Linked DNA regions of Homo sapiens. The protein of the gene in region 1 interacts with the protein of each later gene in a pairwise test. Each region holds a gene or a part of one and is shown in the gene's direction. Other genes may lie near its edges. The genes, in order: FTO, IL16, CLP1 and TNPO2.

Region 1 (7,954 bases):
ATTGAAATCAAGGCATCAATAGGGCCATACTCCCTTTGAAGGACTCTAGGGGAAACTCCTTCCTTGCCTCTTCCAGCTTCTAGTGTCCCTGGTGTTCCTTGGCTTGTGGTAGCATCACTTCATAACTTCTCTGCTTCCATCTTCACATGGCCTTCTCTCTGTTTCTGTGTCTCAAATCTCTCTCTCCTTTCTGTTAAAAGGATGCCAGTCATTGGATTAGGACCCGTCCTAAATCCAGGATGATCCTGAGATCCTTAAGAGCCTCAACTTAATTACATTTGCAAGGACACTTTTTCCAAATAAGGTTACATTCACACGTGCCGGGTTTTTGGATTCGGACATATCTTTTTGGGGAACAATATTCAAATGCACTGCACCCTTTTACATTCCTACCAACTGTTAGTAGGAATGTAAAATGAGAGTTCTACTTGTTTCATATCTTTTCATCGCTTGTCAGTCTTTTACATTTTAACCATTCTAGTAGGTGTGCAGTGATATTTGATTTTAATTTGCATTTCAGTGATGACTAATGAGGTTGCATATCTCTCTTTTTGTAAATCTTTATTGAGTGAGGTATAATTTACATACCATAAAATTCACCTGTTTTCAGTGTAGGACTCAATGGTTGGTAGCATATTTGCAGAGTCGTGTAACTGTCACCACCGTCTTATTTTAGAACAGTTCCATTCCAGAAGAAACTTTGTATTCATTTGCAGTTATTTCTCAATTCTACTTCCTCCCTAGGGAACCACGAATCTACTCTGTTCTTTAGATTTGCCTTTTCTGGACATTTTTATATAGATGGACTCATACAATATGTGGTCTTCTTTCACCCAGGATGTTTTTGAGGTTCATCCATGTTGTAGCATATATTGGTACTTTGTTCCTTTTTATTACACAGTGGATAGAATTCCAGTGTCAGGCCGAGCATGGTGGCTCATGCCTGTAATCCCAGCACTTTGGGAGGCCAAGGCAGGTGGATCACCTGAGGTCAGGATAACTTAGATCAAGACCAGCCTGGCCAACATGGTGAAACCCTGTCTCTACTAAAAATACTAAAATTAGCCAGGAGTGGTGGCACATGCCTGTAATTCTAGCTACTCGGGAGGCTGAGGCATGAGAATCACCTAACCTGGAAGGCAGAGGTTGCAGAGAGCCCAGATTGTGCCACTGCATTCCAGCCTGGGTGACAGAGTGAGACTGTGTCTCAAAAAAAAAAAAAGAATTCCAGTGTCAGGATATACCATATTTTGTTTATCTGTTCACCAGTTGATGGACATTTGATTTGTTTCTACATTTTGACTATTATGGAAAATGCTACTGTGAACATTTGCACCCTAGTTTTTGTGTGGACGTGTTTTCATTCCTCTTTGGTAGATACTTAGGAGTGGAATTACAGGACTTATGGTAAATCTATGTTTAACATTTTAAGAAACTGACAAACTGTTTACTTGTGTGGCTACACCATTTTACATTTCCCATCAGCCATTTTGAGGGTTACAATTTTGTCACATCCTTGTCAACACTTGTTGTTGTCTGTCTTTTCTATTGTAGCCGTTATAGTGGGTGTGAAGTAGTATCTCATTGTGGTTTGATTTGCATTTCTCTGATGGGTAATAATGTTATGCATCTTCTCATGTGCTTATTGGACATGTGTATATCTTCTTTTGTGAAGTGTCTGTTCAAAATCTTTGCCCATTTTTTTGTTGGATTGTTTGTGTTCCTATTATTAAGTTTTATGAGTTCTTTATATTTTCTAGATATAAATCCTTTGTTTACTATGTGTGTTGCAAACATTATCTTCCATTCATCTAGGTTACTTAATAGTTTTTAAGAAAGGTCCACTTTATCAATGTTTATTTTTATGATTCATGCTTTTTGTGTCATATCTATGCAGTCTTTATCCCAAAGTCACAAAGATTTCTTTTTTGCTTTTTAAATTAAACTTTGTCATCCCCATAATGGGCACTTAGTTTTTATTTTTCTTTTCTCTTTGAAATAACTTAGATCATATTTTCTCTCTTGTGATTGCTTATGCTATGGACTTTTATGCTGTTTCCAAGTCTGGAGGGTGAATAAGAAGGTTGGACCACATAGCTTTCTACGATTAACATTTATTTAATTTGTGTTAAGCACATGAGAATACTATACGGTATTCATGCATTTTTAAAATGAACTTTTCTTCTAAGGCATATAATAGAACAGTCCAGATAAGTATTTGATGGTTTGAGTTAGAACCATGGCGTCTACTATTTCCTTACTGTAGGGATAGGGGATTCATACCCCGTGCCTCAGTTTCTCCAGTCATTAATGAGGTTAAGAATAGCTGCTTCTGTGGGTTGGTGTGAGGACCCAGTGTGATGAGGTCTAGCTACTATTCCAGGGGTAGAGTAGCATGCCCTTGATTGAGTTTGGTGGCCTGAGGGGTCCTCTGCTGGGGTGGGGCTGGCCCTATGCATTTTTTCCCAGATGTTATAATTTATTATTTTGAAATGATTTAAAACTTATTGAAGAGCAAGAGTAGAACCTAGAGCTCTCATAGACCTGTTTGTCCATATTCACAGGTTAACATCTTGCTGTGTTCACTTTATTGCTCTCTTTCTCGCCATATATATCCACATGAACAATTTTTTTAATGAACCATTGCAGAGTAAGTCGGAGACATCAGTCCTCTTTACCCCTAAATAGTTCAGCATATATTTCCTAAGAACATGGACATTCTCTTGCATACAAATATAAACACAATCAATTGTTAATTTCAGAAAAAGTTAACATTGATATAATGCTATTATTTCATCCAAAGTCCATATTCAAATTTTGCTAATTGTCCTAATAATGAATTTTATAGCATTTTTTTCCTGGTCCAGGTTCCATCTGGATTGCATATTACCTTTCATTGTCAGGTCCCTTTGGTCTCTTCTCCTTTAATCTGGTGTCCTTTCATGTCCTTTAAATTGGTTCCTCATCCTTTTTCTTTCAAGACATTGACATTTGTGATGTGTGCAAGCTATCTTTTATTTATTTATTTATTTATTTATTTAATTTTTTTGTAGAATGGCCCTGTATTCTTATTTGTCTTATGTTTCCTTATGATTAGATTCAGATTTTGCCTTTTTTTTTTTTTTTTTGAGACCAAGTCTCGCTCTGTTGCCCAGGCTGGAGTGCAGTGGCGCGATCTCAGCTCACTGCAACCTCCACCTCCCGAGTTCAAGCGATTCTTCTGCCTCAGCCTCCTGAGTAGCTCAGACTACAGACACGTGCCACCACACCCAGCTAATTTTTGTATTTTTAGTAGAGATGGGTTTCACCATGTTGGCCAGCCTGATCTCGAACTCCTGACCTCGTGATTCACCTGCCTCGGCCTCCCAAAGCGTTGGGATTACAGGCGTGAGCCACCGTGCGCAGCCCAGATTTTGCATTTTTGCATGTATATTTTTGAGGAAAGATGGGGCCTCTAGAGGTCACATATTTATAATCCACATATGCCTCCTGGCTGTAGGTAAGTTTTATTTGGCCCAAACAAACTAAAAGTTGTTTCAGAATTATTTTCTAATATTTAAAAGTTGAGGGATTTCACATAAAGATCTGGGTGTCTGACTCTCTTGAAAAACTTAAGTATCTGGTAACAGTGGGCATGCATTTTCCTAACTAGAATTGAATAGTGGCTTCCCTTTTAGGTGGGAAATGTGCTTTCCATTTTGCTGTCATCCAGTTTTGCCCCTTAAGTTACAATATAGTGGTGTAGTGTGGAGCTTTAGATGCAGACTCCTGAGATTGAATTCTGCTCCCTCATTTACTTGCGCAAGCAATTTAACTTCTCTGAGCCTCCATTTCCTCATCTATCAAATAGGAGTGATATGGTTCTGGTAGGGATTGAGATATTATATAGCACATAAAACATTGCTGGCATACAGTAAAAATAAACATTGTTATCATCATCATTATCACCATCATCACCACCACCTTCACTACTGCCTATCTGACCCCAGTAGATATATATTCTGTATGTATATATATATATATGTATTCTGATCCCAGGACGTTTATTCTGTAAACTTATGTTGAGTGTCTAGTCAAGTGGATTTTCTCAAATGGGGTTCCATTAACTTATTTCCCATGCAGCCAGAATGGTACTAGTTTTGTACCACCTTTCAGAAAATTGAGAATATAGTCACTCAAACCATTTTCTGTGTTCTGTGGTTCAGATAAGGAACCTGATTAAGTGTCGAGTAGTGTACTCAGCACCAGGGTAAAGATGGCAGACACAGTCCCATGGAACTGGCTGGCTGTCCATGGAAGGTAAGTAAGTACCAACAGCAGAGTGGTGAGTTTTATCACGGGAGGACACGGTAGCAAAGAGGATCTAACATGGCCTAGTAGTCATGGAATTCCTTCCTTAGAAGATCTGTTTAAAGGTGTATCCTTATGAGAGGCCTGGGATTCCTTACGGGGTTTTTCAGAAACATTAAAACTGTTTCATTAGTCATGGAATAAAAAGCTATGGATGTTGAAATCCAAGTTAGCTTCAAAGACTCTTATGCTGGCTTAGGTTAGATAATCTTTTAAACTATTAAAAATAGAACTAGTTTATTATGGAAATGGTTATATACCTAAGAACATTTAATAATTTTGTTTGAGTAATGTACATTTTTATCAATGAAGGAAAATATCCAGAATATGTAACCTACCGTTTTAAGTAACATGATTTAAAAACTCTTCTGCTTTTGGTGATAGTTGTCTTATCAACTTTAAATGATAAGGTTTATTGAGTTATAAAAATAATAACTTGGCCAAATGCAGTGGCTTATACCTGTAATCCCAATGCTTTGTGAGGCCAAGGTGGAGGAGGCTCACTTGAGACCAGGAGTTGGAGGTTACAGTGAGCTGTGATTATGCCACTGCACTCCAGGCTGGGCAACAGAGTGAGACCCTGTCTCTAAATAATAATAACAATAACTCAACAAAAGAAAGTTTGTTATTTATGTTTTTACTGACTGGGTATTTTTACCTTATTTTATATTTCAAATTTGGCATTTTATTGAGGTCCTGAGAAGGTTCTTTTGGAGTCTACTTTTATTATGGGCCATTCTAGATTATGTCACCAGTTTATCTAAAGTGGACACTAAATATAGGACAGTTTTGGTGTTAGGCCAAAGACCAGGGGACTTGAAAAATGAAAACCTCACCTGACAGATTCTACTCTGTTTTTTTTCCTTCTTCCCGAAATCCATTATTATTTTTTGCTTAATCTCTCCTTCAATATATGGGTAAGCCTTTAATCACTGTTTCGGAGGTTTAGTTGACTTCTGTAAATAGAAGAAGAGTTAGTGTATTTGATCATAGTTTCCAAACCACTTTTAATACTGTACCTTACTTGAAAATTAACCAGCTAAACTATCGAGTAACAGTGAGTTCTTGTTGCTTTCTGTTATTTCCAGGCTGTTTCCTAACCCTCCTAGTACTGGTTTTGAAAACTAAATTAGCCATTCAAAAAAACTCTTAGACACTTTGAGCAAACAGTAGCTTCCTTGAAGATAGCATTTGTGTCTAATTCATCTTTTCATCTCTCCATTGTACCTGGCAGGATGTCTTCCACAAAGGAGACATTAATAAGTATCTGGTGAAGAAAGATTAAATGGTTGAGAGAGTCCAGCATCTGTTATGTGATATATGTGACCCTTCATAATTATGATTCTGGATCCTTGGCTGCTAATGAGATTTACTGTGGCTGAGTTTAGTGATACAGATTTTGGCATGTAGATGATAGTCTCCAAAAAAGTAGAGATCATGTTTTTTTTTTTTTTTCCGTTTTGTCATTCACCATTTTATCCCTAGCCCTTAAGATTTTGCCAGACACATGGTAGATATTCCATACTTGTCAAACAATGAATGAATGAATTCCCAAGAGCATCACTTGTTATTGGTCAGTAGACTTTCTAATAGTGAGAGATGGAACCGGAATTTGAAAGAAGTAATGGAAAATGGTTAAGTACCTTATGAATTTTAAATTAATATACCATAGGTGTGGGCATTAATTTTGAGAAACAAGACTCTTCTGTTCAACACATACTTTAGCAACTGTCAACACTTGTTTTCAAGTGTTCTCTTCCAATTTTAAAATGCCAGTTTACCTTTCAGATTTAGAGTATTTTGTTGTTGTTAGTTTATTATGGCAGTTTTCTTGCTAAAGTTATATTTAAAGTGTGACTTTCTAACTTCTAGAGGAGAGGAACTTTTGTTAAGGTGGTACTTTTGGAACCTTAATGAAAAACACACCTTAGAGAAGGTGAATTTAGAGTTCTGCTAAGCACATTCATTTACTCTTCTATTATAAACTGGTTTTGTAATATTTTATAAAATTGTCTCACTGGTTGATTTCACAATGTAAACTGGGAGGATTCTTAGGATTCCTTGGGTTGGATTAGAACAGGTTCAAGAGATGAAGATTTGTGTTGGTAGGGGCTTGTTTCCAAACGTTTGTCCTTGGCATGCTCTTTGTTAAGCCATCACATGTTTGAAAGTTAAACCTTGAATTGGTGCCATGGTTTGCATTTAAAAAAATGTATTTTATTATGGTAAGAACACAACATAAGATCTACTCTCTTACCACATTTTTAAGTGTACAATAAAGTATTGTAAACTGTAGGTACAATGTTGTATAGCAGATCTCTGGCACTGATTCATCTTGTATAATTGAAACTTTATGCCGCTTGATTAGCTCTTTCCCATCCTCCCAGCCCTGGTCATCATCTTTCTACTCTCTGATTCTATGAGTTTGACTATTAGACGTACATTTTTGTTTTTGCTATAAGCATCTGTCCTGTTGCTATGCTGATCATTTATTTACTCTGTAGTTTTGGAAATGACCTGCTTACAAGATAACCATGCCTCCCCTTATGTTAAAAAACTGCCATATGGATAAAGGGCAGTTAAGACCTTTACAACTGGTAGAAACCAAGTAGAAAATTCAGTTTGAAGGACCAAATTATGTTGCAGCTGCTCTGAGGAGGAGATTTGTTGCCAGAGCATGAGTGTTTTCATAATTGTTTGTGATCAGAAAATTCAGAGCTCTGATTTCTGCATTAGCCCTAAGTCTGCCCTTTGGCACCTTCATTTAGTGATTGGATCATTCAAGGCTGAGCCTCAAGGGCCAGCATTTCTCCAGTAATAATATAAAATGGGCTGATGTTGCAACCTTAACTCACTCTGCTGAATTGGGCATGATTAAAGTCTCAAGGCTGCATTAATATGGATTTTCTATTTCTATGTACAGCCGTCCATTATCTCACTATTTTCCAGTTTGCCATTTTTTGAAAACAAAGATGGAAAATTCTGCTGATGAAATTTTTTTTTTGTCTGTCAGCACAACAGCATTTTTTGGGCTTAAGAATATGAGAATAGCACCGGGCAAATGAATGCAAACATTACAGTTTATGTGGACTCTAGCCTGTTGTCATGTCAATCTTGTTATTTAGGTAAATAGTGTGCAATTTTTCACCAAATCAGCAGCCAATATGCTGCGAGCCATTTTTGTTTTAGTTACATTATTGGCTGGTAACACTATTAATGAGACAATAATTGGGAAATAGTAGTCATTGTTCTCATAAAACACGATCCTTGTGTTGGAACCACAGCCAGGCAGAGGAGTTGCATATGCAGACTGCAAGGGAGGAAAGGATGAGTAGCCAGTGTTCCCAGCTTTTAAAATCATCAGACCCCTGCTGCTTAAATTGCCCCAGCTGTTAATGCTGGAACCATTACAGTAATGGACTCAGCAAATGAAGGAGAACGAAGACACGCACACTTTATTACCAGAGGGGCAATTTTCTCTTCATATGTAATAGCAGCGGTGCCTCATATTGATCAGACCATCAAGATACTAATCCTCTGTAAAATTACTTTTTATAACTGAAAATGTGTTAATCCAAATCAGTCTGTGTCCTGACTGTCTACT
Region 2 (7,954 bases), on another chromosome or scaffold:
TTTGGACTTTATCTAGAAGATACTGAGGAACCATTGATTCCCGGGGTATTTCTGGAAATGGAATTCATCAGCTATTTGCAGAGTGGGTTGAAATAAAATAATTTAGAATCCAGTGGCCCAGCTTTGGAGCTGGTACGGGGCTGGGAGCCTGATGCAGGAGCTTCTACTGTTTGTTTGAGGAGATGACTGATATTTTCTAGGTCTCTGAACAGCAACTCAAAGAAGCTGTGGCCCAGGCTGTGGAAAACACCAAGTTTGGAAAGGAGAGGCATCAGTGGAGTCTGGAAGGTAAGACAAATGGTGAACTTTGATGTAAAATATCTTTGCCTTCTTAGAAAGCTTAGGATTTATCCATTAACTCATCCTCTATCCAAGGAATAGTAACAGCATTTACCATAGACCAGCATAGTATGTAGACAAAGGCTGAAAACTAGCAGCCCACCAGCTAAATTTAGCTTATATTTTTGCTTTGTTTGGAAGACACAAGATTTTAAAAGCATCTGAATTTAAATTGCTACAAATGTGCCAGGCTCTCTCCAGCTCCCGGTGGTCTCCACCGTTCCCTTTATCCTGTACCAAGTTGCCATTCACACAATAGCCCCTGCAGGCACTTGAGTTTGCAGCCCCTAGTTTATAATAATAGAATATTAGAAAAACTAACATTTGGGAATATAATTCTGACATTTATTTAATTCTTATAATTCTTATAATAAATCAGAGACTATGCTAATTCATGCATTCACACATAATTTTTATGCAAATTTTATAAGAAAAAGTGAGGCCCTCAGAGACTCTCTTACTCAAAGTCATACCACTAGAGCACAGAGGCTCTGGAATGGAGATCCAGCTGGCTTGACTCCCATGCCTAGCCATTGGGCATTAATCACGTCTACCATGGAACATCCTTATGAAAGAACAACATGCAACCATTGGCACTGATATTGACAAGAAATTAAATGATCTGGGGAAATGTTCAGAGAAAAGAACAGAACACAATTTATTTCAGCTCTGGTTTATTATTTCTACCCACCCAACATGCATATATGCTCGGGAAAGCATGACAGAGAAACTCACCAAAATTTTGACAGTAGTTATTTCTGGCTGATAGGAACACAGGTGAAGTGAATTTTTACTTTCATTCCTTCCTCCTTGTGGCTGAGTTTTCTCTAAGGAGGATGCATTATTTCATGATCAGGAAAAAAAAAAAGAAAACTTTTTATTTAAAGAGAAAGTGAGTTAGGAGCTTGGCTGGCCTTGGTTCTCTCTCATGGGGCTCCTCTGGCTTTCTTGGTCTCTCAGAATGAGCTGGAATTTGAGCAAGAGACTAGATTTCAATCCTCTCCCACCCCTTCAAGCTGTGATTTTAGGAAAGGGGCACCCTTGACAGCTTACCACTAGAGAGAAGGGCCTCTCAAGGATGTGTGGGTAGCCCTAGTGCTGGAAACTAGGGTAGGGGGTACTGAGAACCAGGAAGGGCTAATGGGGAGGGAGGGAGGAAGGTGCAGTGGCTAAGAAATAGCGGCTTTCTGCCCTCACCTCACCCTCAACTGGAAAGAAATAGTGACTTCTTCGTGTAAGATTCAAAGTGCCTTGACAGGTAGTTTCTCTGTCTTTGTTATTGAGCCTCAAAATAACCCCAGTGACTTTAAAATTATCATCCTCATTTTACAGATGCAGAAATGGAGTTGGGTCCCCCAGGAAGCTGACTCTGAGATGGAGTTTGGTCTGCAGGCAGTGTCCTGGGGTTCACTACCTGTGGCAGGGAGGGGAGCAGGCAGGGTAGACAGAGGGAGGACGGAGCTGAGGTGCACACCCAACAGCTTCAGCCAAGCCCTGGAGCTCTGCAGCCAAAGTCCCCATTAGAGTTGTCCTATGTTGGCCAACATAGCTGGGCCTCTGTAACCCTATCTCCAGCAGTCCCTGGAGATGGGCTGCCCCATTGGACAAGGCAGCTGTCTGCAGCTGTGGCAGCCCCTGGAGGGACCCACAGCTGAAAGTAGTCTGCCAGCAGCACTCCCCACAGCTGGGACACCAAGCCCTTCCTCGATGGGTGATCTGGGTGGCATATCTCCATATACATCAGTCATAGGCTCAGAAAGCTTGAATGATTTTCCCAACCCAAAGTCATACAGCTCGCCAGGGACCAACACCAAGACTGCCATACTCCAGATCCACAGTGACTTCAGATAAGAAGCAGATGGCCGATGTGCAGTGTGCTGCCCGTGGCAGTCACAGGTGAGGCCAGGGGGTATTTCTGTTTTCTGAAGCTCAGCTGTGAAGATTCTCTTGTGCTTCCCACACAGGTGTCAAAAGGCTGGAAAGCAGTTGGCACGGGCGGCCCACCTTGGAGAAGGAACGAGAGAAGAACTCAGCACCCCCGCATCGCAGGGCTCAGAAGGTCATGATCCGCTCCAGCAGTGACAGCAGCTACATGTCTGGGTCCCCAGGGGGAAGTCCTGGGAGTGGCAGTGCTGAGAAGCCGTCCTCTGACGTGGACATCAGCACACACAGCCCCAGCTTGCCTCTGGCACGGGAGCCAGTGGTGCTTTCTATAGCATCCTCCAGGCTGCCCCAGGAGAGCCCACCCCTCCCAGAGAGCCGGGACAGCCACCCGCCGCTGAGACTGAAGAAATCCTTTGAGATTTTGGTGAGAAAGCCTATGTCCTCCAAGCCCAAGCCTCCACCCAGAAAATACTTTAAAAGTGACAGTGACCCTCAGAAGAGTCTGGAAGAGAGAGAGAACTCCTCATGCTCTTCTGGGCACACCCCACCCACCTGTGGCCAGGTAAGAGGATGGGTCCACAGGTTGAGTGTTTCCAGGACCAGACTCAAATCTTGAGCATGGGCAAATTAGCAAGTTAGTGTTAGCAGGGCCAGAATGAAAGTTTCTCCTGCTCCACCAGAGAGAAACTGTTGCCTAGGACTCAGCTGAGGACTGACCATGAAAAGATGGGTTTGAAGGTTGACAGATAATTGAAGTCCCAGTCCTGCTTGCTGGCATCTGGGTTCCCACCCATAACACACTGGAATTTAAGGTTCCTTTCTTGTGTCATTTTTCACTCACCATGAAGGAAAAATACCAGGGCCCCTGCAGGGTCTCAGTCTTTGCATGTGGATCTTTGAGTGTCCTGCTTGTAGGGAGAATAGTGGCTTAAATAACTAAAAAGGGGCCTGGCACGGTGGCTCATGCCTGTAATCCCAGCACTTTGGGAGGCTGAGCCGGGTGGATCATGAGCTCAGGAGTTCAAGACCAGCCTGGCCAAGATGGTGAAACCCTGTCTCTACTAACAATACAAAAATTAGCCGGGTATGGTGGCAGGTGCCTGTAATCCCAGCTACGCAGGAGGCTGAGGCAGGGAATTGCTTAAACCCGGGAGGAGTGGCTCCTTCCAAGGGCTATTGTGAGGATTAAAGGTAACCACTTAAGGCAAGTACCTGACAGCATCTCAGGCATATTAGCATTCATTGCCATGATCTTTCCCCATCAGGCCCCTTAAAGCCCTCCTTTCCACCCCTTGCATAAAAGGCAGACTGACTGACAGACAGCTGCTGTGTCTAGAACCATTTTATGCGCAGGCTAACCACACTGAGTACTTTCATGTACATTGTGTCAATTAAATCTTACAACCACCTGATGGTGAGAGTCCCAGTTGTGCAAAGAGGGAACTGAGAAACTCGCTCAAGTTCACATTGCTAGTGGGTCACAGTTACCCACTATGCAATGCTGAGTTTCCCATCCTTACCCAGAAGCTGTCTCCCCCATCACGGAATGGCCCTGCAGGGGCCCTGGCCCTTCCCTTAAGCACACCGTGGGCAGGTGGGAGGGGGCCTCTGGAAATCCCCTAAAACAATCTACAGTGAGGGTTGGCAAGCTTCAGGAGGGGTAGCGGTGGAGACGGGATGTTGAGTAGGAGGGGTGAAAGTGAAGGAGGGAGGAGGAAGCCAGGTTACTAAAAAGGAAGTGCAGTTTTGCAGAGCGCTGGCAGGATGTGGCTGGTTAGCAACACATGATGGAGTTATCAGATGGATCTGTTCTCCCACCCCCTCTTTTAAGCCCATATTTCATTTTCCCTTGGGCCTGAGACCTATGAGTCCAGAAGGGCAAATCAGGAGCAGCCAGCTGAGAAGCCAGTCATTTTGCCTTCCTCCTGGAGGCCCAGAAAAGGAGTGCAGTTGCCACAGCAGGTCTGTCCCAGTGATGCCCTTGGCAGAGCCACATAGGGTCAGGGAATATTCCCGAGTAAGGCGTCTGGAGAAGGAACTGGGGTGTCCTCAGGGAAGCCCAGGCAAGGAACTTCCCACAGGTCATCTTTCATGCCCTGTGTGCCTCAGCAGAATACAGGGCTCCCTCCTGTACCTGCCCCCAACAGCACCGTCTCCTGGAGACAAGGCCGTTCTGCAGCTGCCCTCCTCTGTTTGCTCTGGTCTGTCCCACGTGGCCAGCAGATCCTTCTCCCACAAACATTTCCATAAAAGCAATCAGCACGACATAATTTTATTGGGCACTGGAGAGGCGGGGGTCACAGAGAAAGGATCATAGCACGCAATAGAAAACAGGAAGCAATTTGCTTGAGGTCACTCTCAAAATTTCCTTGACCATTCCTGGGGATTTCTCACTGGATGTTTTCTTCCGTGGCCACAGTGTCCACTGTCTCACTCTCCCACTTTTCCCTCCCTGCAGTCTTTTCTCTACAGGGTCCCAAGACTGTTGTCAAGCTGCTATGGATGACCCCCAAGTCTTTCCCATCTACTCTAATTCAAGGGGACTTAACTCTCACAACCAATATGAACTTTGGGATATTTTCTTCAACAAAAAACTAACATCCCTCTTATAAAAAATCAGCCTAAACTCTCCCCCGTGCTTTAAAAAACTTGCTTAAAAAAACACAACAGGATTTTCGAAGAATCCTTTCTTAGAAAACAAACAAAAAAACCAAACAAAAACGTACTTTCTCCCCACTATGCTGAATCTGCTCTCTCCCTCTTTCCTTCTTTCTCTTCTCCCTCCCTCATCCACCAAGCATGGTTCCAGGAAACACTAGTAAGAGAAAAATTTGTGTAAAATCAAATTTATTTCAGGGGCTAATTCTGAAGTCTCCCATGAAGAGGATGCAATATTGGATGTGTTGATGAAAAGACAAAACACATTTGTGCTGTTCTAAGTTGTAAAGCTGCATTGACTGCAGTTGGTATCACATGTGGCTGCCTGTAAAAGAGCTAACAATTCATGAATGTCAACAGATGTCAACTTACAGAGCTCCCAACCAGGTGAAATTAAATTTCATCCCCATGTAATTTCTCTTGTGGACAAGAGACTTAGAGATCATCAGGCCAATATTTGGAGCTTCTAATGCCATGACTCAGCCTTACTTTTTTTAAGGGCTAGTTCGAGAAGCTCAATGATTCCTTTGAAATTGGTTGATCTCTCAGTATTTCATAATGCTCTCCTAAAGCTCAGTTCTACAGTAGGGAACTCGAGCTGAGGCAATGCTCTGTGAATACACTTCTAACTTTTGTAGACCTTTGCTTCCTCCAAAATGTTTATTGTCAATGTAGATCTTAAATTTCAGGTCATGGATATTTGCCATTGCTTTTTTAGTCCCAAAGGATGCATTTGTTCCTTCCTCTTTCCTTCCTCTCTGGAAGGAAGCCTGCAGCCATGTCAAATGGCCCATCATTACACAAATCTGGAATGAACCGGACGTGGAGGCCACCGCAGTATAGCAAAGCATTTCTCTTGCAGACAATCAAATACAGGTGGCATCATTTTGATGATGTCTGCTTTCTCAATCTTTTTTTCCAGATGGGTATTATGTTTGGTTGGGCTATGTCTCTGGAACACTATTTTTCTGCCTCTCTGCCTGCAAAATTCTTACTCTGTTTATGAAGCAGACAGAAAGTACTTCTCTAGGAAGCCTTCTCCACCTCTGGGATGGAACTGGTCTCTCTGTTTCCTCTGGGCCCTGACAGTACCTTAAGCACACTGTGTGATAATCCAAACTCTTCAAGTATTGCATAGCTATTCAGAGCCTGGTTCATCTTGTCCCTAGGCTGTTTTGGGAGGACCCCAAGGCTGCATCCAGGCTCAGTGGTGGAAACAATTCTGCAACAGATTGAGGATGTCACCCTAGGTGCCACAGAGGGGAGCAATGGCACAGGTGCTGAGTATCTGTCATCTTTTGCAGAACACTTACTAAATATTTGAAGAGTGCTTAACAAGTGACAGCAATTGACAAGCATTTTCCTGAGTGCTCTAACCTTAGGGAACACTAGCTGCCAGGTTTTTTTGCTGCCTTGTTTCTACGCTGCCCTATACCCTCCCGGGGTGGGTAGTTCACCAGATGCAGTTGTAACTGAAGCAATGCCAGTCCCTCCACACTCAAAGCCTTTTGTTCCTATCATAAAGAGTCAGGGTCTTCAAGTATGTCAACAGTATGAGCCCATGACCTGGATACCAGGTTGCTGGAAGTCAAGGGATGCTCTGCATGTCTAGGAGGTGCTGGCTCTGCCACGTCAGCACCAAGGAGAAAAGAATCCTCTTTACATGGCTGCTGATGAACTTCTCACTGAAAGCAGCTCAATATCCGTTTTTCCGTCCCAATCAAAGCGTGTCTCGCCTTCTCACAGCTTGAGGCTACCGTTTTGACATGGTCTCGCTTCCTGTTTACACCACAGGAAGCGAGAGAGCTGCTGCCACTGCTGCTACCACAGGAAGACACAGCAGGGAGAAGCCCTAGTGCCTCTGCCGGCTGCCCAGGACCTGGTATCGGCCCACAGACCAAGTCCTCCACAGAGGGCGAGCCAGGGTGGAGAAGAGCCAGCCCAGGTAAGCTTTCATTGAGATCTTCCAAAAGGAAGGGTCTTTTGAAAAAAGGTGCAGGGATAAGATAAGAGCACAAATTGGCCTGAGGATCAGAGTGCTCTGCATTGACATCACCACTGGACCTGGCTGATCAACAGTCAAGGGTTCCAGGTGCTGGGCAGCAGCACCGTGGAGGTGCTGTCCAGGGTGGGGAGCCTCCTGGGTGGACGGGTGATGCTGTGGGGGTGGCAGCAGGAATGCAGGCCATTCTGGATAATTGGGAGGATGGAGCCCTTGGAAGAGGTCCAAAGACACACCCACCCAGCCATCCTGGGCAGCTACCTCTAGGGTGCCAACATTCCAGTTGCAACAGTCCTGCTGCATTCAGGATTTCTGAGTCAGAGAATGCAACGCCAGAAAAGTATAAATAGCATCTACCAGTGGTCACCTCCTCCATGAGGTGGATAGCAAGGGTGTGTCCACATGGTACACCTGACAATGCTAAGACATGACTTGAATATTTATTTGCTTGCTAGAGAGAGCATAGGACTTGAAGTCAGGGAATCCTGGATCTGTCTGTCATTAGTATGATTCTGAGCAACCTACTTTGCCTTTCTGAGCCCAGATTCACTCATCAGCAATGTGTGGAAGAGCACGTAGACCCCAAGCATATGATGCATTCAGCAAGCACACATTGAATGCTGGCTTCGTGAGGCCCTGTGCTAGATGCTGGGGGGAGAGAGAGAAAGGGATGAGACCAGGTAGTCAGGTCCTGCCTCCAAGGAGCAACTAGTAGTGGCAGGAAATAAACATATAGACTATAAAACATATGACTGTTTGAGTAACACTACAGAAAAGCTCATGAAAGACTTTTGGAGGGCTAAGGGACATTTTGGAAAGATCTAGCACATCTCACCCAGAGCAGAGGCCCTGTGGGTGGAGGCTCCTCTCCCTTAGTCACCCTAATTGAGGAACATTCTAGCAAAAGCAAACGCCTCAGTGTTTAACTGACAGGAGGTTGTCACTCCAATCTGCAAAGGGCTTGCCTGTGGAACCTCTGCCTCCTGATTCTCACAACAGCACCTTACAGCCAAGCCATTCAAAAATGCAGAAACAGGCTGGAGGCCTGGGCTCACTTGCCCAAGGCCAGTC
Region 3 (7,881 bases), on another chromosome or scaffold:
ACCCTAAAACTTAAAGTATAATAATAATAAAATTTAAAAAAAAAAGAAAAAAAAAGATTTTGAAAAGCAATTGTTGAGGAGAACAATGAGAAGTGGGAAAAGGCAAATGATTAGTTTTCAAGGCATGGATCGAAAGTTCTTTTGTTTTGTTTGTTTGTTTGTTTGTTCTTTGAAATGGAATCTCGCTCTGTTTCCCAGGCTGGAGTGCAATGCCATGATCGAGAATCACTGCAACCTCCGGCTCCCGGGTTCAAGTGATTCTCCCACCTCAGCTTCCTGAGTAGCTGGGATTACAGGCATGTGCCACCATGCCTGGCTAATTTTTGTATTTTTCGTAGAGACGGGATTTCACCATGTTGGTCATGCCGGTCTCGAACTCCTGATCTCAAGTGATCCACCCACCCTGGCCTCCCAAGGTGCTGGGATTACAGGCGTGAGTCACTGGGCCCAGCTCGGATTCAAAGTTTGGAAGCAGGCCGGACACCTGTAATCCCAGCACTTTGGGAGGCTGAGGCGGGCAGATGACCCTGAGGTCAGGGGTTCAAGACCATCCTGGCTAACATGACAAAACTCCTTCTCTACTAAACATACAAAAATTAGCTGGGCATGGCAGCGGGCGCCTGTAATCTCAGCTACTTGGGAGGCTGAGGCGGGAGAATTGCTTGAACCCGGAAGGCGCAGGCTGCAGTGAGCCGAGATTGCGCCACTTCACTCCAGCCTGGGCAACAAGAACGAAACTATGTCTCAAGAAAAAGAAAGAAAGAGAGAGAGAGAAAGAAAGAAAGAAAGAAAGTTTGGAAGCAAAAAGAAAATGATCAAGGATCTAGCTGGAGAGGAGAAAAAGAACATATGATGACGGTATTGTTTGGAGGTGGGGTGGAGATGGCAGGAGTGCTTGGTGAAAGATTAAAACTGAGAAAAGAGCTGGGCGCCGTGGCTCACGCCTGTAATCCCGACATTTTGGGAGACCGAGGCAGGTGGATCACCTGAGGTTAGGAGTTCGAGACCAGCCTGACCAACATGGTGAAACCCTGTCTCTGCTAAAAATAGAAAAATTAGCTGGGTGTGGCAGTGGAAACCTGTAATCCCAGCTACTCGGGAGGCTGAGGCAGGAGAACCGCTTGAACCCGGGAGATGGAGGTTGCAGTGAGCTGAGATCGCACCACTGCAATCCAGTCTGGGAGACAGAGTAAGACTCCATCTAAAAAAAAAAAAAAAAAAAAAAAAAGTGAGAGAAGAGAGTGTAGTCAAGCACAGATGCTTTAAATGTTGTGTCCTGACTCTTTCTGTATTTTAGAGGCAAAATGGAGAGCAGCCTAAAGGAAAGGAGGGGTTCTTTTCCCTAAGTTCAGCTTGAGATGGTTATACAATATCCAAATAAAAACAACTTTCAGGTAACTGGGAGAAACTGCCTCAAGGGAGATAGTAGAGGCGAAGATACAGATCTCGGAGATAGATTGCATGGAAAAAGGCGAGGATAAGCCCACTCAGGGAGAAAATTTGCAAATGGAAGACTGGAACTGAATTTTTAAAGAAGAGTGGAAGATTAGGGGACACACAATAGTTAATTGAAAAACTAATGCATAGGCCGGGCGTGGTGGCTCACGCCTGTGTTCTCAGCACTTTGGGAGGCGGAGATGGGCAGATCACTTGAGGTCAGAAGTTTGAGGTCAGCCTGACCAACATGGTGAAAACCCCATCTCTACTAAAAATACAAAAATTACCTGGGCGTGGTGACACACGCCTGTAATCCAAGCTACTTGGGAGGCTGAGGCAGGAGAATCACTTGAACCCAGGAGGCAGAGGTTGCAGTGAGCTGAAATTGCACCACTTCACTCCAGCCTGGGCAACAGAGCAAAACCTCATCTCAAAAAAAAAAAAAAAAAAAAAAAAGCTAATGCATATATGTTCAATGAATGAAATAATTAAAGCAAACCATCAAAGAAAAACTCAGAAGTGATAAGTGAGGATGGCACTGCTTGGGGAGTGCTGCTAAGTAGGGCCAGCAGGAGAAAATCTTTCTGGCGAACCAGAAAATCTTCCCAGTCTCCTCAATATGAATTAACTACGTGAGCCGGACTGAAAAAAGTACTCACCTGTAAAGTGGAGATGACAATTATAGTACCTACTGCATAGGATTCTGGCTACGATTAAATGAATTTACACCTGAAAAGTCCATAGACCAGTATCTGGCATATAACAGTATATAAATGTGGTTTTTTGTTTTTTGTTTTTGTTTTTTTGAGACAGAGTCTCGCGCTGTCGCCCAGGCTGGAGTGCAGTGGCAGGATCTCAGCTCACTGCAAGCTCCGCCTCCCGGGGTCAGGCCATTCTCCTGCCTCAGCCTCCCTAGTAGCTGGGACTACAGGCGCCTGCCACCACGCCCAGCTAATTTTTTTGTATTTTTAGTCGAGACGGGGTTTCACTATGTTAGCCAGGATGGTCTCGATCTCCTGACCTCGTGATCCACCCACCTCGGCCTCCCAAAGTGCTGGGATTACAGGCGTGAGCCACCACGCCCTGCCTTAAATGTGATTTTTTTTGTGAGACAGAGTCTCACTCTGTTGCCTAGGCTGGTGTGCAGTGGCGTGATCTCAGTTCACTGCAACCTCCGCCTCCCCGGTTCAAGCGATTCTCCTGCCTCAGCCTCCCAAGTAGCCGGGATTACAGGCGCCCGCCACCACGCCTAGCTAATTTTTGTATTTTTAGTATAGATGGGGTTTCACCATGTTGGTCAGGCTGGTCTCGAACTCCTGACCTCAGGTGATCCGCCCGTCTCGGCCTCCCAAAGTGCTGAGACTGCAGGCGTGAGCCACCGCGCCTGGCCTAAATGTTTACTATTATTATAACCGGACTCAGAAACTCTGGGTTTGAGTCCTAGCTCTACCAATGGCTGTTAATGTTTGGGCAAACCTCTGCACCTATCTGAGTCTCCTCCCCCATCTGAAATTGGATATAATAAAGCTGTCTTTACAGGGTGGCTGTGAAAGAAGATGCCTGAAAGGGATCTGAAAAATGTTAAGTATTGCACGAATGAATGATATTATAGCCCCTTCCGCCCCAGCCTATAATAAAAACGTAAAAGCTGATATCAGATTTTTTTCTATATTACAGGCATTGTACTTAGTACTTTACAGGCACATTCCTGCAATCGTCAAAACAACTTTAGGAGGTTGGGCACTGTTATTATCCCAACTTTGCAGACAAAAAACGATATCACGCTTGAGCCCAGGAGGTCGAGGCTGCAGTGAGCCATGTTCGCGGCACTGTACTCCAACCTGGGCGAGAGAGTGAGACCCTGTCTCAAAAACAAAAAGAAAAAAAAAAACGATCTCAGAGAGATGAAGCCTGTGATTTGCTCAAAGTCACACAGTAATGTAAGCAGTATAGCAAATAATATAAGATTCCAAAGCCCAAGGTAGTAAAAAGAGGATTATAGACGTGGTGGAACCTGTTGGCTGCGGGGCAAATGACTGACCTGTAACTGTCAGGGATTTATGGAGGGAAATGAGTGCCTAACAAAAATCCTCGTTTAGTGGGAGAGAGGTTGTTGGGTAATGACTGACTTGTAGCTGGAAGAAATCATCGGATTTTTATTCTTTTATTAAAGAAAAAAAATTTGAAATGCCTTCCATGTGCCAAGCACTGTGTCAGGTGGGAGATGACAGCTTGGTGAAACCTCTGTCAGGCTGTCTTCCTCCGCTTTCTCTATCCCTGGGTTTCCCCCTGCCTAAAAAGGATTTTGTGCTTCGTGGCTTGTCCAGGCAAGCAGGCCGTCGCGGGACCTAGACCGAGACAGTGAGTCTCTCTTTCTCCCGGGCCTCCCTTCTGTTTCCTGGGCTGCAGGGGAGCAGGAAATCTGGGGCGAGATTCCCGCCGCGGACGCGCACTGCCGAAGCCTGGTCCCTCGACCTGTCCCTGCCCAGCGCGGGGGCGCAACCGCCACGCCTCCTCACCCCTCCCTCCGGCTGCACGAATAATGACAACAGCCGCCCCTCCCACCTTTGGCGTCACGTTCAAAACAATCCTTTGACTACAACTCCCAGAAGGCCGAGCGGCTTAGCGAGTGCACCCGCTCTCGGCTGCTCCGGCAAACTACACATCCCAAAGGGCAGCGCGCGACCGCGTGTCCTTTCACAGCGCAAGTGCGGAACTGCGTTTGTTTCCGGCGTGGGTCCGGGCAAGAACCGCTTGTAGTTTGGTTTAAATTCTGCACGGGAGGACCTTCTGAGTTTACCTGTTGGGCTCCTGGCTGCGCAGGTGAGTTAAAAAAAGGGCAGGAACACAACTGTCACCTCCTTGGGGTCTGGGGACATTTTGGTGTCTGGGGAGATTTTGGTGTCTTGGGGAGATTTTGGTGTCTGGGAAGGTTGGGACAAATGCTGGAGCTAGAGCTGCAGTCCAGGATCAGAAATAATTCATATCGTTTCCTTGCCGTTTTCTAGTTTACGAAGTGCTTTTTTTTCCTCCCACAATTCCTGTAAACCCCAAGAACAACACTGTATTTGAGGAAGTGTAAGTGCTTCCAGTCGACAGCTTCAAAGGTTCAGAGAAGTTAAGTGATTGTCTAAAGACACTACTAGTAGTTACAGAGACGAGGATTAGGCTGTTTTCTGAGTTCAGACCCGGTGTGCTCTGCTTTGCATCCGTATTTCAGACGCCCTTTCCTGTTGACTAGGATGATTGGGGTCAGGGCATCTGTTACCTTCTCAAGTTTGGAGTTTACCAATAGAGTGATGGAGGGTGATATAATTAAATCTTCTGTCAGTCTGTAGGTATGGTTTTTCTCTGATGTCTGAGACATTAATTCACTCAATGTATTGAGGTGCCTACAGTCTGTCAAGCTGTATTCTAAGCAGTATATAGTATCAAACAAAAATGCCTAAGTCTTACATTTTGGGGTGGAGGAGGCGGGGAAGACACAATATATAGTGAGACCGATGGTGATAAGAAATATGGAGAGAATTAAAGCAAGGTAAGGGGAAACATTCATTGTATGTTTTTATTATTTATTTATTTATTTGTTTATTTTATTTTATTTTTTTTTGAGACAGAGCCTTGGTCTGTCACCCAGGCGGGAGTACAGTGGCATGATCTCGCCTCACTGCAACCCTGCAACCTCCACCTCCTGGGTTCAAGCGATTCTCCTGACTCAGTCTCCTGAGTAGCTGGGACTACAGGCGCCCACCATTATGCCTGGCTAATTTTTGTATTTTTTAGTAAATACTGAGATTTCACCATGTTGGCCAAGCTGGTCTTGAACTCCTGACCTCAGGTGATCCACCCACCTTGGCCTCCCAAAGTGCTGGGATTACAGGCGTGAGCCACCAGGCCTGGCCAATATTTGCATTTTTTCTACAGACGGGGTTTCACCATGTTGCCCAGGCTGGTCTTGTACTTCTGAGCTCAGGGGATCTGCCCAACTCAGCGCCCCAAAGTGCTGAAATTACAGGCCTAAGCCACTGTGCCTGGCCCATTGGATGATTTTTTTTTTTTTTTTTGAGATGGAGTCTTGCTCTGTTGCCCAGGCTAGCATGCAGTGGCACAATCTCGGGTCACTGCAGCCTCTGCCACCTGGGTTCAAGCGATTCTCCTGCCTTGGCCTCCCAAAGAGCTGGGATTACAGGCACCCTCCACCATGCCCGGCTAATTTTTTTTTTGTATGTTTAGTAGAGACAGGGTTTCACCATGTTGGCCAGGCTAGTCTTGAACTCCTGACCTCAAGTGATCCAGCCACCTCGGCTTCCCAAAGTGCTGGGATTACAGGCGTGAGCCACCATGCCTGGCCCCATTGGATGTTTTTGTAACAGAAGACTGACTTATAATTAGATCTGATATTTAATTTGTGTTCTAGGCACAGCAGCTACACAGAAGAGATGGGAGAAGAGGCTAATGATGACAAGAAGCCAACCACTAAATTTGAACTAGAGCGAGAAACAGAACTTCGCTTTGAGGTGGAGGCATCTCAGTCAGTTCAGTTGGAGTTGTTGACTGGCATGGCAGAGATCTTTGGCACAGAGCTGACCCGAAACAAGAAATTCACCTTTGATGCTGGTGCCAAGGTGGCTGTTTTCACTTGGCATGGCTGTTCTGTGCAACTGAGCGGCCGCACTGAGGTGGCTTATGTCTCCAAGGACACTCCTATGTTGCTTTACCTCAACACTCACACAGCCTTGGAACAGATGCGGAGGCAAGCGGAAAAGGAAGAAGAGCGAGGTCCCCGAGTGATGGTAGTGGGCCCCACTGATGTGGGCAAGTCTACAGTGTGTCGCCTTCTGCTCAACTACGCAGTGCGTTTGGGCCGCCGTCCCACTTATGTGGAGCTGGATGTGGGCCAGGGTTCTGTGTCCATCCCTGGTACCATGGGGGCCCTCTACATCGAGCGGCCTGCAGATGTCGAAGAGGGTTTCTCTATCCAGGCCCCTCTGGTGTATCATTTTGGTTCCACCACTCCTGGCACTAACATCAAGCTTTATAATAAGGTCAGAGCCAGAGAAAGGTGGGGTGGAGGGAAGGGCTGCTATCAGGGTAGGAAACTGGAGAAGTTTACTAGTTAACACTGCATTTTCTCAGCTGGTATTTCTGCTGCATTACTTTAGAAAGGCAATTCCAAATATGTCAGTCTCAGATTGTTAAACATTTCTGTGGATCTATTCTTAGTAATTTGTTAGATTTTCACTTAGGGCATAAAACAGGAGGCAGAAGCAGCAACATAAAAATTAAATCCATGTTATGGTATCAAAACTACAGCCATTAAAAATGTCATTTTTTCAGGCTGGGTACAGTGGCTCATGCCTGTAATCCCACAACTTGGGAGGCTGAGACGGGTGGATCACCTGAGGTCAGGAGTTGGAGAGCAGCCTGGCCAACATGGTGAAACCTTGTCTCTACTAAAAATACAAAAAGTAGCTGGGCGTGGTGGCTGGTGCCTGTAATCCCAGCTGTTCAGAGACTGAGGCAGGAGAATCACTTGAACGCGGGAGGTGGAGGTTGCAGTGAGCTGAGATCGTGCCACTGCACTCCATCCTGGGCAACAGAGTGAGACTCCATTTCAAAAAAAAAATCATTTTTCTTATATCTAATAGCACTTATTCTAAAGAGGAACAAAGTAGCCATGGGTTTGTCTGGGTGTTTTTGTTCTTACCTTGATCCTCTCTTTTGCAGATTACATCTCGTTTAGCAGATGTGTTCAACCAAAGGTGTGAGGTGAACCGAAGGGCATCTGTGAGTGGCTGTGTCATTAACACCTGTGGCTGGGTCAAGGGCTCTGGTTACCAGGCTCTGGTGCATGCAGCCTCAGCTTTTGAGGTGGATGTCGTTGTTGTTCTGGATCAAGAACGACTGTACAATGAACTGAAACGGGACCTCCCCCACTTTGTACGCACTGTGCTGCTCCCTAAATCTGGGGGTGTGGTGGAGCGCTCCAAGGACTTCCGGCGGGAATGTAGGGATGAGCGTATCCGTGAGTATTTTTATGGATTCCGAGGCTGTTTCTATCCCCATGCCTTCAATGTCAAATTTTCAGATGTGAAAATCTACAAAGTTGGGGCACCCACCATCCCAGACTCCTGTTTACCTTTGGGCATGTCTCAAGAGGATAATCAGCTCAAGCTAGTACCTGTCACTCCTGGGCGAGATATGGTGCACCACCTACTGAGTGTTAGCACTGCCGAGGGTACAGAGGAGAACCTGTCCGAGACAAGTGTAGCTGGCTTCATTGTGGTGACCAGTGTGGACCTGGAGCATCAGGTGTTTACTGTTCTGTCTCCAGCCCCTCGCCCACTGCCTAAGAACTTCCTTCTCATCATGGATATCCGGTTCATGGATCTGAAGTAGAGATCAGCAGGAAGCCTTGCTGCCTGGGACATAGAGATCATCTGG
Region 4 (7,954 bases), on another chromosome or scaffold:
ATAGCTGGGCGTGGTGGCAGGCGCCTGTAGTCCCAGCTGCTTGGGAGGGTGAGGCAGGAGAATTGCTTGAACCCAGGAGGCTGAGGTTGTAGTGAGCCAAGGTCGTGCCACTGCACTCCAGCCTGGGTGACAGAGCAAAACTCCGTCTCAAAAAAAAAAAAAAAAGAAATGAAAAATCAACAAAGGCTTCAGGGGTATGGCTGTATCCAGGAGCTCAAAGGATGTGAAAGGCATCTTTGTGGTCTCAGATCTGCTTCCCTTGTGTTGGCTTCATTCTTAGGCACAACCTTCCCTCTGGGTAGTGCTGTAGCCTTCTGTGCCCTTCCAGCTTAGGAACTTCAGAGTAAAGAAATTTTCGACCAGTGTTTCCAACAAAAGTCCTAAAACTGACCCTCCTTGACAAACTTGGATTGCTTGCCTCTCTCCAAATCATTTTTTTCTTTTTTATTTTGAGACAAGGTTTTGCTCTGTCATCCACGCTGGAGTGGAGTGTCAAAATCATGGCTCACTGCAGCCTTGACCTCCCAGCTGAAGCAATCCTCCTACCTCAGCCTCCCAAGTAGCTGGGATTACAGGCACATCCCACCACACCTAGCTAATCTTTTCTAAGTTTTAGTAGAGATGAGGTCTTGCTAAGTTGCTCTGGCTGGTCTCGGATCCCTGGCCTCAAGCAGTCCTCCTGTCTTGGTCTCCTAAAGTGTTGAGATTACAGGTGCGAGCCACTGTACCCAGCCCCCAGATCATTATTATTATTATTTTGAAATTTCTGTTTTTGAGACGGAGTCTCACTCTGCTGCCCAGGCTGGAGGGCAGTGGCACAATCTCGGCTCACTGCAACCTCCGCCCCTCGGGTTCAAGCGATTCTCTTGCCTCAGCTTCCTGACCTTGTGTTCTGCCCACTTTGGCCTCCCAAAGTGCTAGGATTACAGGCGTGAGTCACCACGCCCAGCATATTGTATGTTTATTTATTTATTTATTTATTTATTTATTTATTTATCATTCATTAGAGGTGAGGTCTCACTATATTGTCCCAATTGGTCTCAAACTTATGGGCTCAGGCAATCCTCCTGCATTGGTCTCCCAAAGTGCTATAATGACAGGTGTGAGCCCCTGTGCCCGGCCCCAAATTATTGATAACAGTCTAGGGCTGGGCAGACGGCTCCTGGGGAGTGATGAGACCTAGATGAGCAGGTGATGAAGGCTCTGTCACTTACAACTCTGGGCTGCAGCTGAGGGGCTGGCTGCCTAGTCTGTTTGCTCCCCTACTCTGGCTAGTCTCTGCCCTATCTCAGGAAAGTGGCCAGGAATAGGACCGCATGTCCCTGCCTTAATGTTGTGCTAGGGACCAGGCACTGTACCAAGATTTTCAGTGTATTCAGGGGTCTATAATCCACTGAGTGGCCAGGCCTGGGTCAAGAGCTTTCCTGCAGGCTGAGTGCCATGGCTCACGCCTATAATCCTAGCACTTTGGGAGGCTGAGGCAGGAGGATTGCATGAGCCCAGGAGCATGAGGCTGTGGTGAGCTGTGATCGCACCAGTGCACTCCAGCCTGGGTGATAGGGTTACGTAGGGACCAGCCCCACAGGGTCGGTGGGTCTCTTCCTGTGTGCGGCGATGAGAGAGTGTAGAAATAAAGACACAAGACAAAGAGATAATAGAAAAGGCAGCTGGGCCCGGGGGACCACTACCACCAATGCGCGGAGACCGGTAGTGACCCCAAATGTCTGGCTGCGCTGTTATTTATTGCATACAAGGCAGAAGGGGCAGGGTAAAGAATGTGAGTCACCTCCAATGATAGGTAAGGTCACATGGGTCACGTGTCCACTGGACAGGGGGCCCTTCCCTGCCTGGCAGCCGAGGCAGAGAGGGAGAGTAGACAAAGAGAAAGACAGCGTATGCCATTATTTCTGCATATCAGGGACTATTAGTATTTTCACTAATTTACTACTGCTATCTGGAAGGCAGAGCCAGGTGTACAGGATGGAACATGAAGGCAGACTAGGAGTGTGACCACTGAAGCACAGCATCTCAGGGAGACGGTTAGGCCTCCGGATAACTGCGGGCAAACCTGACTGATGTCAGGCCCTCCACAAGAGGTGGAGGAGCAGAGTCTTCTCTAAACTCCCCCGGGGAAAGGGAGACTCCCCCACTTTCCTGGTCTGCTAAGTAGCGGGTGTTGTTCCTTGACACCTTTTGCTACCGCTGGACCATGATCCGCCTGGTAACGGGCGTCTTCCCAGATGCTGGCGTCACCGCTAGACCAAGGAGCCCTCTGGTGGCCCTGTCCGGGCATAACAGAAGGCTCGCACTCTTGTCTTCTGGTCACACCTCACTATGTCCCCTCAGCTCCTATCTCTGTATGGCCTGGTTTTTCCTAGGCTATGATTATAGAGCGAGGATTATCATAATATTGGAATAAAAAGTAATTGCTACAAACTAATGATTAATGATATTCATATATAATCATATCTAAGATCTATATCTGGTATAACTATTCTTGTTTTATATTTTATTATACTGGAACAGCTCGTGTCCTCTGTCTCTTGCCTCGGTGCCTGGGTGGCTTGCCGCCCACAGGGTTAGACCCTGCTTCTTAAGAAAAAAAAAAAAAAACCTTTCTCTGGAGGCAGGAGTGGTATCATTTATATCCTAATCATAGCGGCAGAGACTAGATTCCGATAATTCCCCAGAGGGAAATGGATCAATTTGCACCTAGCAGTACCATCATGCTCTGCAGGGTCTGCTCTGTGGCTGATTGGGGGGCTGGTCACTCTGTTGGCACCTGTTTGCCTCCTCCCCAAGCTGTGCCTCCCCCCAACTTTTGCCACGGCCCCTGCATCCCCATAAACAGTCCCTCTCTGTGCAGGTTGATCCCCATCTTGGTGAATGGGATGAAGTACTCGGAAATTGACATCATCCTGCTCAAGGTCAGGCAGGGCCCACCCAGCATGGGTGGGCATGGGCGTGGGTGTCGCGGCTGTGGTCCCCAAAGTACTTAACAGTCTGCCTGTCCCCCAGGGGGATGTGGAGGAGGATGAGGCTGTCCCCGACAGTGAGCAGGACATCAAGCCACGCTTCCACAAGTCACGCACGGTCACACTGCCCCACGAGGCTGAGCGGCCTGATGGCTCCGAGGACGCGGAGGATGACGATGATGATGATGCTCTGTCCGACTGGAATTTGAGTGTGTGCCCCTGCCTGGGGGTGGTGGTGGGGTGGCAAGCCCTGGACTCCCTCTTGGGAGGTGACTAGAAGCTGAGGCAGAAGCTGATTAGAAGCTGATCGTGGCCGGGCGCAGTGGCTTACGCCTGTAATCCCAGCACTTTGGAAGGCTGAGGCGGGCGGATCACGAGGTCAGGAGATCAACACCATCCTGGCTAACACAGTGAAACCCCGTCTCTACTAAAAATACAAAAAATTAGTCGGGCGTGGTGTCGGGCGCCTGTAGTCCCAGCTACTCGGGAGGCTGAGGCAGGAAAACGGCATGAACCCAGGAGGCGGAGCTTGCAGTGAGCCGAGATAGCGCCACTGCACTCCGGCCTGGGCGGAAAAAGTGAGACTCCGTCTCAAAAAAACAAAACAAAAAAAAAGAAGCTGATCGTGAAGATTCTGAGCATGATCTCTGATCCTGGGAGTGCAGTCAAGGAGGGTCGGCCACCTGCCTGAGGGGCCGCCCTGAGCCTCCCCATTGTTCCCCCTTCCCCAGGGAAGTGCTCAGCGGCTGCACTGGACGTCCTCGCCAATGTCTTCCGGGAGGAACTGCTGCCCCACCTACTCCCACTACTCAAAGGCCTCCTCTTCCACCCCGAGTGGGTGGTCAAGGAGTCGGGCATCCTGGTGCTGGGCGCCATTGCTGAGGGTGAGTGCGCCTGATCTCTGAGCCCTGTGCTGGCATGAGACTGTAGGGCTGGCCCACATTACTAGCCACACCAATGCCTCAGTTCTCCCTGGAGGCCTACTCACCCCACTCCAAACAGCTCTGAGATCTCAATTCTCCCCTTGGTTCCTGGGCCTGAAAGGAACCCCTGGAGCCCCACAGTGCAAGGCCTCTTGTTCATTCTTGCAGGCAGGTAGTTCTTTCATGTTGTAAGCATAATTACAGCAACAATGATAATAACAGCAGGCACAGCTGCATGCTTGCCTCGTGCACTTATGTAGACAAACATCCTTGGCCCTCACCACCACCTGATGAGCTGGGTGCCGGATCCCAGTTTCGAAGATGGGGAAACTGAGGTACAGAAAGATTGATGCCACTTCCTTACAGTCACTCAGGGTGTGTCTGGGCCTTAAACCTGTTCCTGGCTGCCGGGCTGGCCTGCCAGAGTCAGTAGTAACCCGTGGTAGGTGGTGTTTCATCAAATTCAACCTGGTGTTCTGTAATCGGTGGGGTTTTCAGGCTCCCATGGTCCCGGTGGGACATAAAACTTGTTACAGGAGGGCTTTGTGAGTCCGTTGGAGGCATCATATACCATTGCCTCAGCATCCAGACCTGTGCCAAAAATTTCAGGCATGGCAGCAAAAACCCTCAACCTTGTAAGCTTTCAAAATTTGTCTAAAATTTGTCTAGTTACTGTGGTGCACGCCTGTAATCCCAGCTACTCAGGAGGCTGAAGCAGGACAACTGCTTTAGCCCAGGAGTCCGAGACCAGCCTGGGCAACATAGGGAAACCCTCTTTCTACAAAAAATTTTTTAAAAAGGCCAGGTGTGGTGGCTCATGCCTGTAATCCTAGCACTTTGGGAGGCTGAGGCAGGCAGATCGTTTGAGCCCAGGTGTTCAAGACCAGCCTGGGCAATATAGTGAGACCTCATATCTACCAAAAAAAAAAAAAAAAAAAACCTGATAAAATTAGCCGGCGTGGTGGTAAGTGCCTATAGTCCCAACTAACTGGGAGGCTGAGGTGAGAGGTCAAGGCTGCAGTGAGCCATGATTGCGCCACTGCGTTCCAGCATGGAGAACAGACTGAGACCCTGTCTCAAAAAAAAATTGTCTAAAGAAATGTTTCGACATGTAATATGTGTTTAATGTATCTCATATCTCATGTTAATAGGGTATATATCACACAATACGCTTACATATGTTAATAGATTACATAAGCTGTGTTATTTATTTATTTATTTGAGACTGAGTCTTGCTTTCTCGCCAGGCTGGGGTGCAGTGGCATGATCTTGGCTCACTGCAACCTCCGCCTTCCAGGTTCAAGTGATTCTCCTGCCTCAGCCTCCTGAGTAGCTGGGACTACAGGTGCATGCCACCACGCCCAGCTAATTTTTTTGTATTTTTAGTAGAGACAGGGTTTCACCACGTTGGCCAGGATGGTCTCTATCTCCTGACCTCATGATCTGCCTGCCTTGGCCTCCCAAAGTGCTGGGATTACGGGTGTGAGCCACCTTGCCCAGCCAGCCACCACGCCTGGCCTCTTTTTTTTTTCTTTTTTTTTTGAGATGGAGTCTCCCTCTTATCGCCCAGGCTGGAGTGCAGTGGTGTGATCTTGGCTCACTGCAACAACATTCTGCCTCCCGGGTTCAAGCAATTCTCCTGCCTCAGCCTCCAGAGTAGCTTGGGATTGCAGGAATTCACCACCAGGCCTGGCTAATTTCTTTTTTTTTGAGACGGAGTTTTGCTCTTACTGTCCAGGCTGGAGTGCAATGGCGCAATCTTGACTCACTGCAACCTCTGCCTCCCGAGTTCCAGAGATTCTCCTGCCTCAGCCTCCCAAGTAGTTGGAATTACAGGTGTCCACCACCGCACCTGGCTGATTTTTGTATTTTTAGCAGAGACGGGGTTTCTTTCACTGTGTTGGTCAAGCTGGTTTCGAACTCCTGACCTCAGGTGATCCATCTGCCTCAGCTTCCCAGAGTGCTGGGATTACAGGCGTGAGCCACCGCACCCGGCCTGTATTACATGTTTATGGTAAAAAGATCTATAGGAGTTGAGCTCAAACTGGTAAACATAGATCTTGTGTCTTGGATTATTGGCAATGTGCTATTATCTTTGTTCTCTTTAAATAAAAGAGCAGAGTTCGTGATATTTTAAAAAAAAAAAAAAACCCTGGGTGTGGTGGCTTAAGCCTGTAATCCCAGCACTCTGGGAGGCCAAGGCGGGTGGATCACCTGATGCCAGGGGTTCAAGACCAGCATGGCCAACATGGCAAAACCCCATCTCTGCTAAAAATACAAAAATTAGCCAGGTGTGGTGGTGCATACCTGTAGTCCTAGCTATTGGGAGGCTGAGGCACGACAATCACTTGAACCTGGGAGGCAGAGGTTGCAGTGAGTGGAGATCACACCACTGCACTCCTCCTTGGGGGACAGAGCGAGACTCTGTCTCAAAGAAAACATTAAAAAATTGTTAAAAATGGCTGGGCACAGTGGCTCACGCCTGTAATCCCAGCACTTTGGGAGGCCGAGGCGGTTGAATCAACTGAGGTCAGGAGTTCGAGACCAGCCTGGCTAACACGGTGAAACTTCGTCTCTGCTAAAAATATGAAAAATTAGCCACACGTGGTGGCCCACGCCTGTAGTCCCAGCTACTGGGGAGGTTGAGGCAGGAAAATTGCTTGAATCAGGGAGGCGGAGGTTGCAGTGAGCCAAGATTGTGCAACTGTACTTCAGCTTGGGCAACAGAGCAAGACTCCGTCTCAAAAAAATAATAATAATAAATTAAAAAATTAAACAAAAATAAGGAGAAATAGAACAATCATAAACGGCCAGACACCTATAATCGCAGCACTCTGGGAGGCTGAGGTGGGATCACGTGAGGTCGGGATTTTAAGACCAGTCTAGCCAACATGGTAAAACCCCGTCTCTACTAAAAATATAAAAATTAGTTGGGTATGGTGGCGGGCGCCTGCAGTCCCAGCTACTTGGGAGGCTTAGGCAGGAAATCACTTGAACCCGGGAGGCAGAGGCTGCAGTGAGCCCAGATCACACCACTGCACTCTAGCCTGGGCAACAGAGCAAGACTCCATCTCAAAAAAAAAAAAAAAAAAAAAAAAAAAAGAAAACTCACAAACATCTTAAGAACTGTTTCAAATGCAAAGTGCTTTTATTCCATTTGGGTCACTGCTGCCCCATAAAACCCCACTCACTATGTAACGGAGCCAATTTTGAATTAACACATGAATTCAATTAACACATGAATTAATGCATGAATTGAATTAACGCAATAACACGGAGCTCTTTGGCTGGGCGCGGTGGCTCACGCCTGTAATCCCAGCACTTTGGGAGGCCAGGGCGGGTGGATCACGAGGTCAGGAGACTGAGACCATCTTGGTCAACATGGTAAAACCCTGTCTCTACTGAAAATATAAAAAATTCCCCGGGCATTGTGGCAGAGGCCTGTAATCCCAGCTACTTGGGAGGCTGAGGCAGGAGAATTGTTTGAACCAGGAGGTGAAGGTTGCGGTGAGCCATGATCGTACCACTGCGCCCCAGCCTGGGCGACAGAGCGAGACTCTGCCTCAAAAAAAAATAAAGATAACCCGGGGCTTTGGGATGAGAGGCTTCTGTTGTTTCCCCTCCTGTGCCTGCCTTTACCTGGCTCTGTGAAATGAGTCTGGGCCAGTGATTTAAACTCTAAGCCTCAGTTTCCCTATATGTTGTGTGCGGCTGACTCTTCTCTCCATACGGTGGGTGTGGCTGGGCCCAATCAAACTGCCCCCTCTTGGTTCCCTTTCCTTGTAGGCTGCATGCAGGGCATGGTGCCCTACCTGCCTGAGCTGATCCCGCACCTGATCCAGTGCCTGTCGGATAAGAAGGCCTTGGTCCGCTCCATCGCCTGCTGGACGCTGAGCCGCTATGCCCACTGGGTGGTCAGCCAGCCACCCGACATGCACCTCAAGCCCCTGATGACAGAGCTGCTCAAACGCATCCTGGATGGCAACAAGAGGGTACAGGAGGCGGCCTGCAGGTGACCCTGGACCCCTGATCCCACAGCCCCCACTCTCCCCCGGC

Evidence for each region.
Region 2: the proteins of FTO (region 1) and IL16 interact in binary tests that used the Homo sapiens proteins (3 or more experiments, as listed by UniProt).
Region 3: the proteins of FTO (region 1) and CLP1 interact in binary tests that used the Homo sapiens proteins (3 or more experiments, as listed by UniProt).
Region 4: the proteins of FTO (region 1) and TNPO2 interact in binary tests that used the Homo sapiens proteins (3 or more experiments, as listed by UniProt).

The regions. Positions count from the first base shown.
Region 1 is NC_000016.10:53,707,156-53,715,109, forward strand, and holds part of FTO (alpha-ketoglutarate-dependent dioxygenase FTO), read left to right. Parts: intron 1-7,954.
Region 2 is NC_000015.10:81,290,253-81,298,206, forward strand, and holds part of IL16 (pro-interleukin-16), read left to right. Parts: intron 1-200; coding exon 201-288; intron 289-2,303; coding exon 2,304-2,785; intron 2,786-4,765; exon of another isoform or gene 4,766-5,079; coding exon of another isoform or gene 5,080-5,130; exon of another isoform or gene 5,131-5,196; coding exon of another isoform or gene 5,197-5,268; exon of another isoform or gene 5,269-6,675; coding exon 6,676-6,826; intron 6,827-7,954. UniProt on the Homo sapiens protein: Interleukin-16 stimulates a migratory response in CD4+ lymphocytes, monocytes, and eosinophils. Primes CD4+ T-cells for IL-2 and IL-15 responsiveness. Also induces T-lymphocyte expression of interleukin 2 receptor. Ligand for CD4.
Region 3 is NC_000011.10:57,653,601-57,661,481, forward strand, and holds the start of CLP1 (polyribonucleotide 5'-hydroxyl-kinase Clp1), read left to right. Parts: upstream 1-4,161; 5' UTR 4,162-4,260; intron 4,261-5,854; 5' UTR 5,855-5,876; coding exon 5,877-6,482; intron 6,483-7,164; coding exon 7,165-7,836; 3' UTR 7,837-7,881. UniProt on the Homo sapiens protein: Polynucleotide kinase that can phosphorylate the 5'-hydroxyl groups of double-stranded RNA (dsRNA), single-stranded RNA (ssRNA), double-stranded DNA (dsDNA) and double-stranded DNA:RNA hybrids. dsRNA is phosphorylated more efficiently than dsDNA, and the RNA component of a DNA:RNA hybrid is phosphorylated more efficiently than the DNA component.
Region 4 is NC_000019.10:12,706,526-12,714,479, reverse strand, and holds part of TNPO2 (transportin-2), read left to right. Parts: intron 1-2,866; coding exon 2,867-2,927; intron 2,928-3,018; coding exon 3,019-3,184; intron 3,185-3,706; coding exon 3,707-3,859; intron 3,860-7,684; coding exon 7,685-7,910; intron 7,911-7,954. UniProt on the Homo sapiens protein: Probably functions in nuclear protein import as nuclear transport receptor. Serves as receptor for nuclear localization signals (NLS) in cargo substrates.